Linked DNA regions of Homo sapiens. The protein of the gene in region 3 purifies or fractionates together with the protein of the main gene of each other region. This does not show direct contact. Each region holds a gene or a part of one and is shown on either strand. Other genes may lie near its edges.

Evidence for each region.
Region 1: the proteins of SPARCL1 (region 3) and PADI3 purify together in Homo sapiens (affinity purification with mass spectrometry; one large-scale study listed by BioGRID and IntAct). This does not show direct contact.
Region 2: the proteins of SPARCL1 (region 3) and CRYBG1 purify together in Homo sapiens (affinity purification with mass spectrometry; one large-scale study listed by BioGRID and IntAct). This does not show direct contact.

Annotation. Positions count from the first base shown.
Region 1 is NC_000001.11:17,269,474-17,273,128, reverse strand, and holds part of PADI3 (protein-arginine deiminase type-3), read right to left. Parts: intron 2,897-3,655; coding exon 2,718-2,896; intron 2,251-2,717; coding exon 2,147-2,250; intron 2,063-2,146; coding exon 1,951-2,062; intron 1-1,950. UniProt on the Homo sapiens protein: Catalyzes the deimination of arginine residues of proteins.
Region 2 is NC_000006.12:106,521,129-106,524,783, reverse strand, and holds part of CRYBG1 (beta/gamma crystallin domain-containing protein 1), read right to left. Parts: coding exon 3,331-3,655; intron 1-3,330. UniProt on the Homo sapiens protein: May function as suppressor of malignant melanoma. It may exert its effects through interactions with the cytoskeleton.
Region 3 is NC_000004.12:87,480,782-87,484,436, forward strand, and holds part of SPARCL1 (SPARC-like protein 1 isoform 1 precursor), read right to left. Parts: intron 1,780-3,655; coding exon 1,643-1,779; intron 1-1,642.

The DNA.
Region 1 (3,655 bases), on a different chromosome or scaffold from region 3:
ACACAGCAAGACAGAGGCCGGAGGTGAACGAGAACATGGACATGACCTTGGGGGTGTCCCTGTGAGTACTGGGCCAAGGCAGGTGGACACAGAGAAGCACTCACAGTGGCCTGAGTTGGATCCATAAATGTGCCCAGGTCAGTCCTGACCCCTCTGGTTCTGGAGGAAAAGATGGCCCAGTGTGAATGAACTTCACATCCAGGTCCTGCCCTAAACTCTTTATAAACATTAACTCCATTCATCCTCATGACATGCCTGGGCGTGGGCACCATAATTATCCCATGTGACAGATGAGGAAAATGAGGAACTAAGAGGTCTAATTATTTATCCAGTCCGGGCACGGTGGCTCACACCTATAATCCCAGCACTTTGGGAGGGTGAGGCGGGAGGATTGCTTGAGGCCAGGAGTTTGAGACAACCCTGGGCAACATGGCAAGACCCCATCTCTACAAAAAATTAGCTGAGCCTGGTGGCTGCACCTGTGGTCTCAGCTACTCGGGAGACTGAGGCAGAAGGATCACTTGAACCCAGGAGTTCCAGGCTGCCAGTGAGCTGTGATCATGCCATGGCACTCCAACCAGGGTGACAGAGAGACACTGTCTCCAAAAAGAAAAATAAATTCAAAATATATTAATTTAAAAAAATAAATAAAAATTAAAAAATATTTGTCCCAAAGCTCACAGCTAGTTAGTTGGTGGCACAGCCAGGCTCTAAACCCAGCCCATCGTGCCCCAGAGTCCTGCCCCAAACCCTCTCACTGGACTGACCTCCGGCCAAGAGGAAAGCTCCTTAACTTGGAATTCAAGGTCTCCGACCTCAACCCTTGCCTTTCTCAGAACCAGTGCCCTGACAGAGGAGAACACACAAGGTTCTCTCTCCTGCCTCCCACCCCCGGGCCTTTGCGCATGCTCGGTCTCTGCCAGGACCACCAACCTGTACAGCCTGGTGCTTGGCAGCCTGAGTCCTAGCACTGCCTTTACCAGCTCTGTGGCCCAGTCATGCTCCCCTAAGAGCTCCTGAATTATGGGGGACTTACAGGGGGTTATCAAGAAGATGAAATGATGCTATGCCTGGCCTGCAGAAAATGGGGCATAAATGGCAGAAGTCATGTGCCCTCATCTGCCAAATCTGGTCCAGCTCAGATGCTCTCCCTCCTGGAGGTCTTCACTGATTCCCTGGGCAGAGGTGATGCTGCATCCCCCAAACCCTACTGGTGCTTTGCTGGTATAGCCTCTGCACCCTAGATATTTCTTTTTCTCTCTCTCTCTCTCTCTTTTTTTTTTTTTTTTTTTGTTGTTGTTGCTGAGGCTGGAGTGCAGTGGCACAATCACAGCTCTCTGCAGCCTTGACCTTCCTAAACTCAGGTGATCCTCTGACCTCAGCCTCCAGAGTAGCTGGGACTACAGACACACGCCACCATGCCCTGCTAATTTTTTAACTTTTTTGCAGAGACAGGGTTTCACCATGTTGCCCCAGCTACACACTAGATAGTAGGAGTAGGTATTTTTGTAGCAATCATTCTGCACATCAAGGTTTCTCAGCCTCGACACTACTGAGGCGTGGGACTGGATGATATGTTATTGTGGGGGCTTGTCCTGCGCACTGTCTGCAGATACTGCAAAACGTCTCCTGGGGACACATCGCCTCTTGATGAGAACCACTGGTCTCAGCTGTTGAGGGCAGGGAGTGTGTGTCTCACACCTGTGCCACCCCTGTGGGCCTAGCCTAGTGCCTAGCCCAGATCCGGTGGGTGAATGGGTGTTGAATCCAGGATCAGCGTGGGTCTCCAGAAGGTTCTGGAGAGAAGCCTCTAGGTCTCACATTAGAAACGGCAGCAAGTTCCCTGGGGAGCACCCAGGTCCTCCTGGATGTTTCTCGGTGGCCCCCAAATGAAGGCCTCTCTCTCCAGGATGGCGTCCTTGCTGGGCCCTGCCCAGTGGCTGTGGTTACCTGGATCCAGCGGTCGTTGCGGTTCTCGGCCTGTGGGCAGATGGTCAGCTTGCAGCCGGCCTTCCTGGCCAGCTCTGCCACCGCATCCACAAAACACGTGTTGTTCCTCACACTACGGACAAGCCCAGGGAAGAGGGGCTCAGGATGGAGCCGGGGCCTGGGGGCCAGAGGGACCACCCACTGCCCCAAGACTCACCGGCACACATACACCTCTAGGGGTGGCAGAGTGCTGGGCGTCATGATCCAGGGTGCCACTCGGAACACCACAGTGTCAGTGAAGATAGGGGATGCCGAGAAATCCTGCAGGGGCAGACCAGGGGAGAAAGAGCACTGGACTTGGAGTCCAGAGGCCTGGGGGGACTCTGATTCCACCACTGTGGTCCATAAGAAAACCCCTTGCTTCTCTGCAAGATGGAAATGAACCAGAGGGGTGGTCAAGAAGTCTGGGGTCTTTCACACCAGTGGTGCCTGGTAGACTTACCAGGAATGGAGTCCTCCCCACTGCCCTTTATTATTATTATTTTTTGGAGACAGGGTCTTACTTTGTTGCCCAGGCTGTGGAGTGCAGTGGGGTGATCATGGCTCACTGCAACCTCAACCTCCCTGGGGTTCAGGTGATCCTCCCACCTCAGCCTCCCAAGTAACTGGGACTATAGGTGTACACCACTATACCTCGCTATTTTTTTTTTTTTTGTAGAGATGGGGTTTCACCATGTTGCCCAGGCTGGTCCCGAGTGGAGCTCCTCTTGAACCCCCTCTGTCCCTACCTCGTTGGAGTCGTCCAGCAGAGTGACATGGAAGGAGATGAGTCCTGTGAAGCCGGCATCAGGGAAGGACAGGCCTTCCACGAAGAAGCGCTCCTCATCCCCATGCAAGCGGGGTACCTCATAGGACACCTTATCTTGGCCCAGCACATGCCTATAGGCCTCACACACATCCTCAGGACCTGGAAGGGGAGGGACGGGGTGGCTGTGACTCCCTGTGGGCCCAGGGAGCATGAGTATGAGGGACACAGGAAGAGGTCTGCAGCCTCACCAAAAATTCCAAGTCCTCCAACAACTCCCTCCTTTCACCTCCACTGGCAAAGGAGAGGACAGGTAATACACAGTGGGGGCCACGGCTGGGGGAAAGGGTCTTCCTTTCTAAGACTGGCGCTCATACCTTTTTGGAGCACAATTTGGCAGCATCCAACAAAGTAATGTTTACCCCAAGCCCAGCAATTCCACTGCTAGGTATCTTTCCTACAAAAATACATCTACAGGCTGGGCACGGTGGCTCATGTCTGTAATCACAGCACTTTGGGAGACCGAAGGCGGTGGATCACCTGAAGTTAGGAGTTCAAGACCAGCCTGGCTAACATAGTGAAACCCTGTCTCTACTAAAAATACAAAAATTAGCCGGGCGGTGGTGGTGCACACCTATAATCCCAGCTACTCAGGAGGCTTAGGCAGGAGGATTGCTTGAACCCAGGAGGCGGAGGTTGCAGTGAGCCAAGATCACACCACTGCACTCCAGCCTGGGCATGGAGCGAGAATCCATCTCAAAAAAAACCAAAACCAACAAAAAACAAAACAACAACAACAAACAAACAATAATAGGTACAAAGTCACATAATATTTCTGTACAAGAGTGCTCGATATTCATTAATTCATCAAATATTTACTGTGCAACTACAGTGCACCCATGGGGCACGGTTCTGGACTTG
Region 2 (3,655 bases), on a different chromosome or scaffold from region 3:
TAAAGATAAATTAGAATATATTAATCACTTACCTAGAAAGAGCTGAATCAATTTTGTGTTCATATACATACCCTATCTGAATCCATATAAATATTGTTTTCTCATAGTAAATCTACAATCATATAACAACCACTAGTCTAAATAGAAGTGTTTATGGTATATATGGTATATTTCATAATGTACATTGCACATAGTATATTTAATCCCCCTTTTTTTTCTTTTGAGATGGAGTCTGGCTCTGTCACCAGGCTGGAGTGCAGTGGCATCATCTTGGCTCACTGCAACCTCCGCCTGGGTTCAAGTGATTCTCCTGCCTCAGCCTCCCGAGTAGCTGGGACTACAGGCATGTGCCACCAGGCCCAGCTAATTTTTGTATTTTTCTTTTAGTAGAGATGGGGTTTCACCATGTTGGCTAGGATGGTCTCGATCTCTTGACCTCGTGATCCGCCTGCCTCAGCCTCCCAAAGTGCTGGGATTACAGGTGAGAGCCACCGTGCCCGGCCTAATCCCGCTTTTTTGATAGACAAAATACATTTCAATATGGCTCCAAAACTAATCATTTTCAAGACCATCTGACAAGACCAGTAAAACCAGAAATGCATAAGATAATAAAATAGTAATTATACATGTAAAAATATTACAAAACGTGAACTACTTTCAGTGCTGACCAGGATGCCTATTTTAGGAACTGCCTTTGCTCTGACTGCTCTTGCATCACACCAGAGTGTGATATGCCCAGAAGACCACAAAAGGCTGGGGCGCAGTGCCTCACACCTGTAATCCCAGCACTTTGGGAGGCTGAGGTGGGCAGATCACCTGAGGTCAGGAGTTCGAGACCAGCCTGGCCAACATGGCAAAACCCCGTCTCTACTAAAAATACATAAATTAGCTGGGCGTGGTGGCACTCACTTATAATCCCAGCTACTTGGGAGGCTGAGACATGAAAATCGCTTGAACCTGGAAGGCAGAGAGGTTGCAGTGAGCTGAGATCATGCCACTGCACTCCAGCTTGGGTGACAGAGCGAGATTCTGACTCTAAAAAAAAAAAAAAAGGCCATAAGGGCCCCCCTAGAGCCTTATCAGAAGCCAGATGGTATATACCTATTTATGTATATATACACATTAGAAGTAGATAAACTGAAGAAAAAGCCTAAAATTTAAAACAAAATTCAGGTAAAACCTTCATGATTGAATATACAATCAATAAAAGCCCAGGACCTAAAGAAAGACCATATTTTTTAATCATAAAAAGGCCTAGAAAAAGTATAAAGATTTTATTTTTCCTTTTTATGTCATTTGACTTGATTTTCATAGGGAAACTGTATATTCTGTTATCAACTTTGTCAGACTGTAGTTAAATAAGGAAAGCGATCTAAGAACAATTAAAAAGAACAAAGTAGTAATGAATGGGAAGTGGACCAGTGGAAATTTTGTGCTTGAGAGAAATAGTTAATATTTCTATTATATAACTATTAATAGAAATAGTTAGAATTTTATGATTTCTGAGTACCATAGGCTGATTCAGTCTTATTTGTTTATAGCAGTGGTTCTCAAAATGTGGTTCAGAGGCCACTGCGGGGGTCTCCAAGATACTTTCAGGTAGTCCATGGGGTCAAAACTATTTTCATAATAAGAAGAGGTCACCTGCCTTTTTCATCTCTGTCTCAAATGTCCAGCGGAGTACAAGGCTCCATGATGTGTGATGACATCGTTGCTCTGAGCACTGGTGCAGTGTGCACTTCTACTTTCTGGTGTTTTACAATTTTCTCAGCAATTATTTATAATATAATAAATTCTGATAGGCAGAACCCATACAAACAAAAGCTCGTTGGGGTTCTCAATCATTTTTAAACATAAAGGGTCCTAACACCAAACATCTGAAACCCAAACTTTATGAAAGTTTATGAAATCACATGAAAAAGGGATCTGCACCTCTGCTGGAAACCCAACCATATATTTTGAAAGAGCTTGCAACATCACATTCTCTGACAGGATTGTAGTAAAAGCCAATACAATACATTGAACCATGCTGCAGTACCCTGTACAGACGAGGAAAGGTGCAAGGTATTTTCTGCCTAGATAAACTGTGTTGGATTGAGGTCCACACTTGCCAGACAGCCGGGTTCACAGGATGGACCACCAGAATACAAACCCTACTCAGGTTTCTAGCCTGGCAGAGCTGATCACTAAACATATATTCCACCTTCCTCTCTCATAGTCCTTTCTCACCTTAAATAAGCTTGGTAACAAAAAGGCGCAATTCACATCAAAAACCGAGTAAAGTAAACATCTTCTGAAGTGAGATAAAAGAAGATGCAGAAATCAAAATTATTCCCCAAAATCATGTTTTGCTGTCTTCTCTCTAATATTTAAGAAAAGATCCAATGAAAACCAAAATTCTTTATTCCCCACAGCTTTGCAGGGTAAAAAAAATATTTCCCTAATGAAAACTAATTCCCAATAAAGACAAAATACTGTCTCAATTGCATAGGATAAACACCTATTGCTACTTATGGGAACAAAGAGTGAATCTCACAGAGAGAAGGATTAAGAAAAAGTTTCCCTGGCTGGGGACTTCCCAAATAGAGGAAGCTCCTTCACAAATCTTCAAAATTCTAAGTATAGCACTGAGCATTTTTACATAGAATAGGTAAGAAAAAGCAACTCATCTGTCTCTGAACTCTAAAAGCTTACCTATACCTTTCATAATACAACATATAAATTCACATGTGCCTTAAAAGATTTATTGCCAGCCAGTCAGGATGGCTCACACCTGTAATCGCAACACTCTGGGAGGCCGAGGCAGATGGATCACGAGGTCAGGAGTTCGAGACCAGCCCAGCCAATATGGTAAAACCCCCGTATTTGTATTTTCAGTCTTTACTAAAAATACAAAAATTAGCCAGGCGTGGTGGCACGCGCCTGCATTCCCTGCTACTAGGGAAGCCGAGGCAGAAGAATCGCTTGAACCCAGGAGGTGGAGGTTGCAGTGAGCTGAGATTGCACCACTGCACTCCAGCCTGGGCGACAGAGCGAGACTCTGTCTCAAAAAAAAAAAAAAAAAAAAAAAAAGATCATGTGCCTTAGAGCATTTGTAGCTTTATCTCCCTGCAAGACTACAGATGCCTTCAGTGAAGACTCTTAGTACATTTTTTTCTTGCACTCTAACGGTCCCTTGTACATTGCAGGTTTTCAAATATGTGATGAATGAATAAAAACTATAGCACATAAGCTTAACCATTTCTAAAAGAATAACATGAGTTGCTCATCATCCTTCTCTTCCCTTGCTTTAAAAATACCCCAAATAAATAATAACACATTGCTACTTACCATTGTGTCTGATAATGACATTCCAGAAAAAGAAATGCTTGGGTCATACCGGCTTGATTTGAAAAGACCCATGAAGTCGGTGTCACTGTTTGCACAGTTTGGCAAGTTTGATTTAATAACACTTTCAATATGATTAGCCTTTTCCATATCATCATTCTTCAGTTTTGACAATTCAGAAAATTTAGTTTCTGGCAAGTGTAGGTTGCTTCGTGAATCCAGATCTTCTTTGGTTTTCTCTTTTTGCGGGTATTTTTCCATGTGGCTTGGACTTTTCAAACTGGAGTGTGATGTACTTGACGAGTTGAAATTGAAGACCTTTAAGGAG
Region 3 (3,655 bases):
TGTTTTGCCTCTTTCTTTTAACCAAGTAATGTTCGCTGCTTTTTTTTTTTTTTTTTAAACTATGAGGTTTTAATGAAAAGGGCTGAATTGACTAAGGTGATTAGTTAGTGAAAAGTGCTGCTCCTTCCCCCGATGACAGAGTCCACTCTTAGTCTTCTAGGTCATCCATCCAGTGCCCACTCAGTCTTGCTTTCACCCTGGTGTGTTATTGCTTGGCCAGCCCCATTGAAATTTCCCTGTTTCATAGCTAATACCCTCAAGGCTCTCTGTGACAAGGTATTCAAGACGGGGGCTAGAAATTATTCTTGAGCAGTGCCTGTGAAACTCTCAGCTTGTGATGTTGCCTCTTATTTCACTGAGTAATTGGAAGCAAACAGGACCTCCACCTGCTCCCAGAACCACAACTTTGCTCCCTGCGACCTTCCTGTGCTCCTAACCTAAGTCCAATCCCTCTCCTCTGGGTGGGACATGTATCGAAGAACGCCCTCTGGCAGTTGTGCGCATTCTCTGCTCCCCACTAACATTTCCTTCTTGACTGGGTTATTTCCAGAAGCGTGCAAACATCCTCTACCATCTCCCACTGCTAGGTGGGACTCTTGTACTCACTTTCCACTCCAGCTGCCACCCCATTTCTCTTTATCTCTTCATAGCAAAACTCCTTGAAAGGATTGTCTATACTTGCTGCATCCATTCCTCCTAGTCTCTGTTGAACTCTGTCCACTGGAGCTTCCCTCCTGAAACATGCTCCCACCCCAGGAACAGTTCCTATCAAGGTCAGCTATGACTTTGACATGCTAAATCCCTGGCCAATTCTCAGTCTTCAACTCATAACCTATAAACAGCATCTGACACAGTTAATGCACACCCTCCTTCTTGTTTTATTTGTCTTCACACCATGTTTAATCCCAACTGACATACTTATACATATATTTGCTGATTTGGTTATATTTACATAAATGCTCATTTTACTATATATAATTGCATATATGCATATATATGTATGTACAAATATATGCATATACAAACATTACATACACACACACATATATACTTATTTGTTTAGAGTCTGTCTCTTCACCCAGAATGTAAACTCATGAAGGCAGAGATTTTCTTTTCGTTGCTGTATCTCCAGTATTTAGGTCAATTTCTGGCACCCAGGATACACTCAATAACTATCTGGTGAATGAATTTTCTCTGGAAGCTTTTGGAATCAATGTTCTGTGCTTTTTAATCTTAATATATTACTGATATTTTGAGTAATGGATTTACTTTATATCATACATCTATGTCTGGCCTATGAGAACAAAACAAATGCTTAGATTTAAATAAGATGTTTGGACTGACTAGATCAATGCTAAATTTATATTAACTTTGCTCAACCAGAGCTTGCTCTAGGTAGGAATTGAAGAGCCCTAATTCAGGCCACTGACCATTGGGAAGAATGGGGCGGTTTGGTGGTGTCTGAAACCTTGTGGCGTGAATGGTGACATCTATTATTCTGTTAAGCCACATGGGCTAACCGGGCATGGGGAAGCATAGTGGGCTTTTGCCAGTATGCAGAGGTAGGTAGCCCCCCCACCACGTCTTTCTTCCTCATGCCCTGTAGACAGACATTGAAGAAGCTAACCTGTGGATAACTTACTTTATTTCTCTGCTTCTCATTTAGATAACCAGCGTGTTCAGAGTTGGCTTCATAAAGCTGCATGAGGATATTCTTGAGCCAGTCTCTCATCCGTAGAGGAAACTGAATCACTTCAAAGTCCGTACAAGTAGGAATAGCTGTTACAAGCAGAAAATGTACTGTAATCTTTGGGCTTATTTGTGTCCTATGGCAAGTCCTCATAATAGGAAGCTTAACGACTTCTGGCAACTGACAGAGCTTTCTCAGGTCCCCATTATTATGACAGTGGTCCTCAGCCCTGGCAGCAGCACAACAAAATTGCCTGGGGTTTTAAAAAACATACCAAATGCCAGCTTCCAATCAAGTAAATTCTGATGTGATTGGTCTGGCGTGAAGTCTGGGCATCAGGATGTTTTTAAAGCTCCAAGATCTATTTGGATGTGCAGCTAGGCCCCAGAATCACTGCTGTAGAATCAGAGTTGAAATTTGTAGGTGGAGGGCACAAGTGCTATTGAATAGAGAAAAAGGTAGCTATTAGCTGATACTACAGTAAGAAATAATGCTAAATCTCAGTGGCTTAAAGAAACAGAAGTCAATTTTGCAATCCTGCTACAAGTCCAATACAAGTTGGCAGGAGGGCTCTGCTCATTGCAGTCTCCCCAGAGCTCAGGATCACTGCCGTTTTTTTTTTTTTTTAATTATACTTTAAGTTCTGAGATACATGTGCAGAATGTGCAGGTTTGTTACATAGGTATACACATGCCATAGTGGTTTGCTGCACCCATCAACCCATCATCTACATTAGGTATTTCTCCTAATGCTATCCCTCTCCTAGTCCCCCAGCCCCTGACAGGCCCTGGTATATGATGTTCCCCTCCCTGTGTCCATGTGTTTTCACTGTTCAACTCCCACTTATGAGTGAGAACATGCAGTGTTTGGTTTTCTGTTCCTGTGTTAGTTTGCTGAGAATGATGGTTTCCAGCTTCATCCATGTCTCTGCAAAGGACATGAACTTATCCTTTTTTATGGCTGCATAGTATTCCATGGTGTATATGTGTCATATTTTCTTTATCCAGTCTATCACTGATGGGCATTTTGGTTGGTTCCAAGTCTTTACTATTGTGAACAGTGCTGTAATAAACATATGTGTGAATGCATCTTTATAGTAGAATGATTTGTAACCCTTTGGGTATATACCCAGTAATGGGATTGCTGTATCAAATGGTATTTGTAGTTCTAGATCCTTGAGGAATTGCCACACTGTCTTCCACAATGATTGAACTAATTTACTCCCACCAACAATATGAAAGCGTTCCTATTTCTTCACATCCTCTCCAGTATCTGTTGTTTCCTGACTTTTTAATGATCGCCATTCTAACTGGTGAGAGATGGTATCTCATTGTGGTTTTGATTTGCATTTCTCTAATGACGAGTGATTATGAGCTTTTTTTCATATGTTTTTTGGCTGCATAAATGTCTTCTTTTTGAGAAGTGTCTGTTCATATCCTTCACCCACTTTTTGATGGGGTTGTTTTTTTCTTGTAAATTTGTATCTGTTCCTTGTAGATTCTGGGTATAAGCCCTTAGTTAGATTGACAGATTGCAAAAATTTTCTCCCATTCTGTAGGTTGCCTGTTTACTCTGATGATAGTTTCTTTTGCTGTGCAGAAGCTCTTTAGTTTAATTAGATCCCATTAATCAATTTTGGCTTTTGTTGCCATTGCTTTTGGTGTTTTAGTCATGAAGCCTTTGCCCATGCCTATGTCCTGAATGGTATTGCCTAAGTTTTCTTCTAGGGTTTTTATGGTTTTAGGTCTTATGTTTAAGTCTTTAATCCATCTTGAGTTAATTTTTGTATGAAGTGTAAGGAAGGGATCCAGTTTCAGTTTTCTGCATATGGCTAGCCAGTTTTCCCAGCACCATTTATTAAATAAGGAATCCTTTCCCCATTGCTTATTTTTGTCAGGTTTGTCAAATATCAGATGGCTGTATATGTGTGGCATTATTTCTGAGCCATCTGCTCTGTTCCATTGG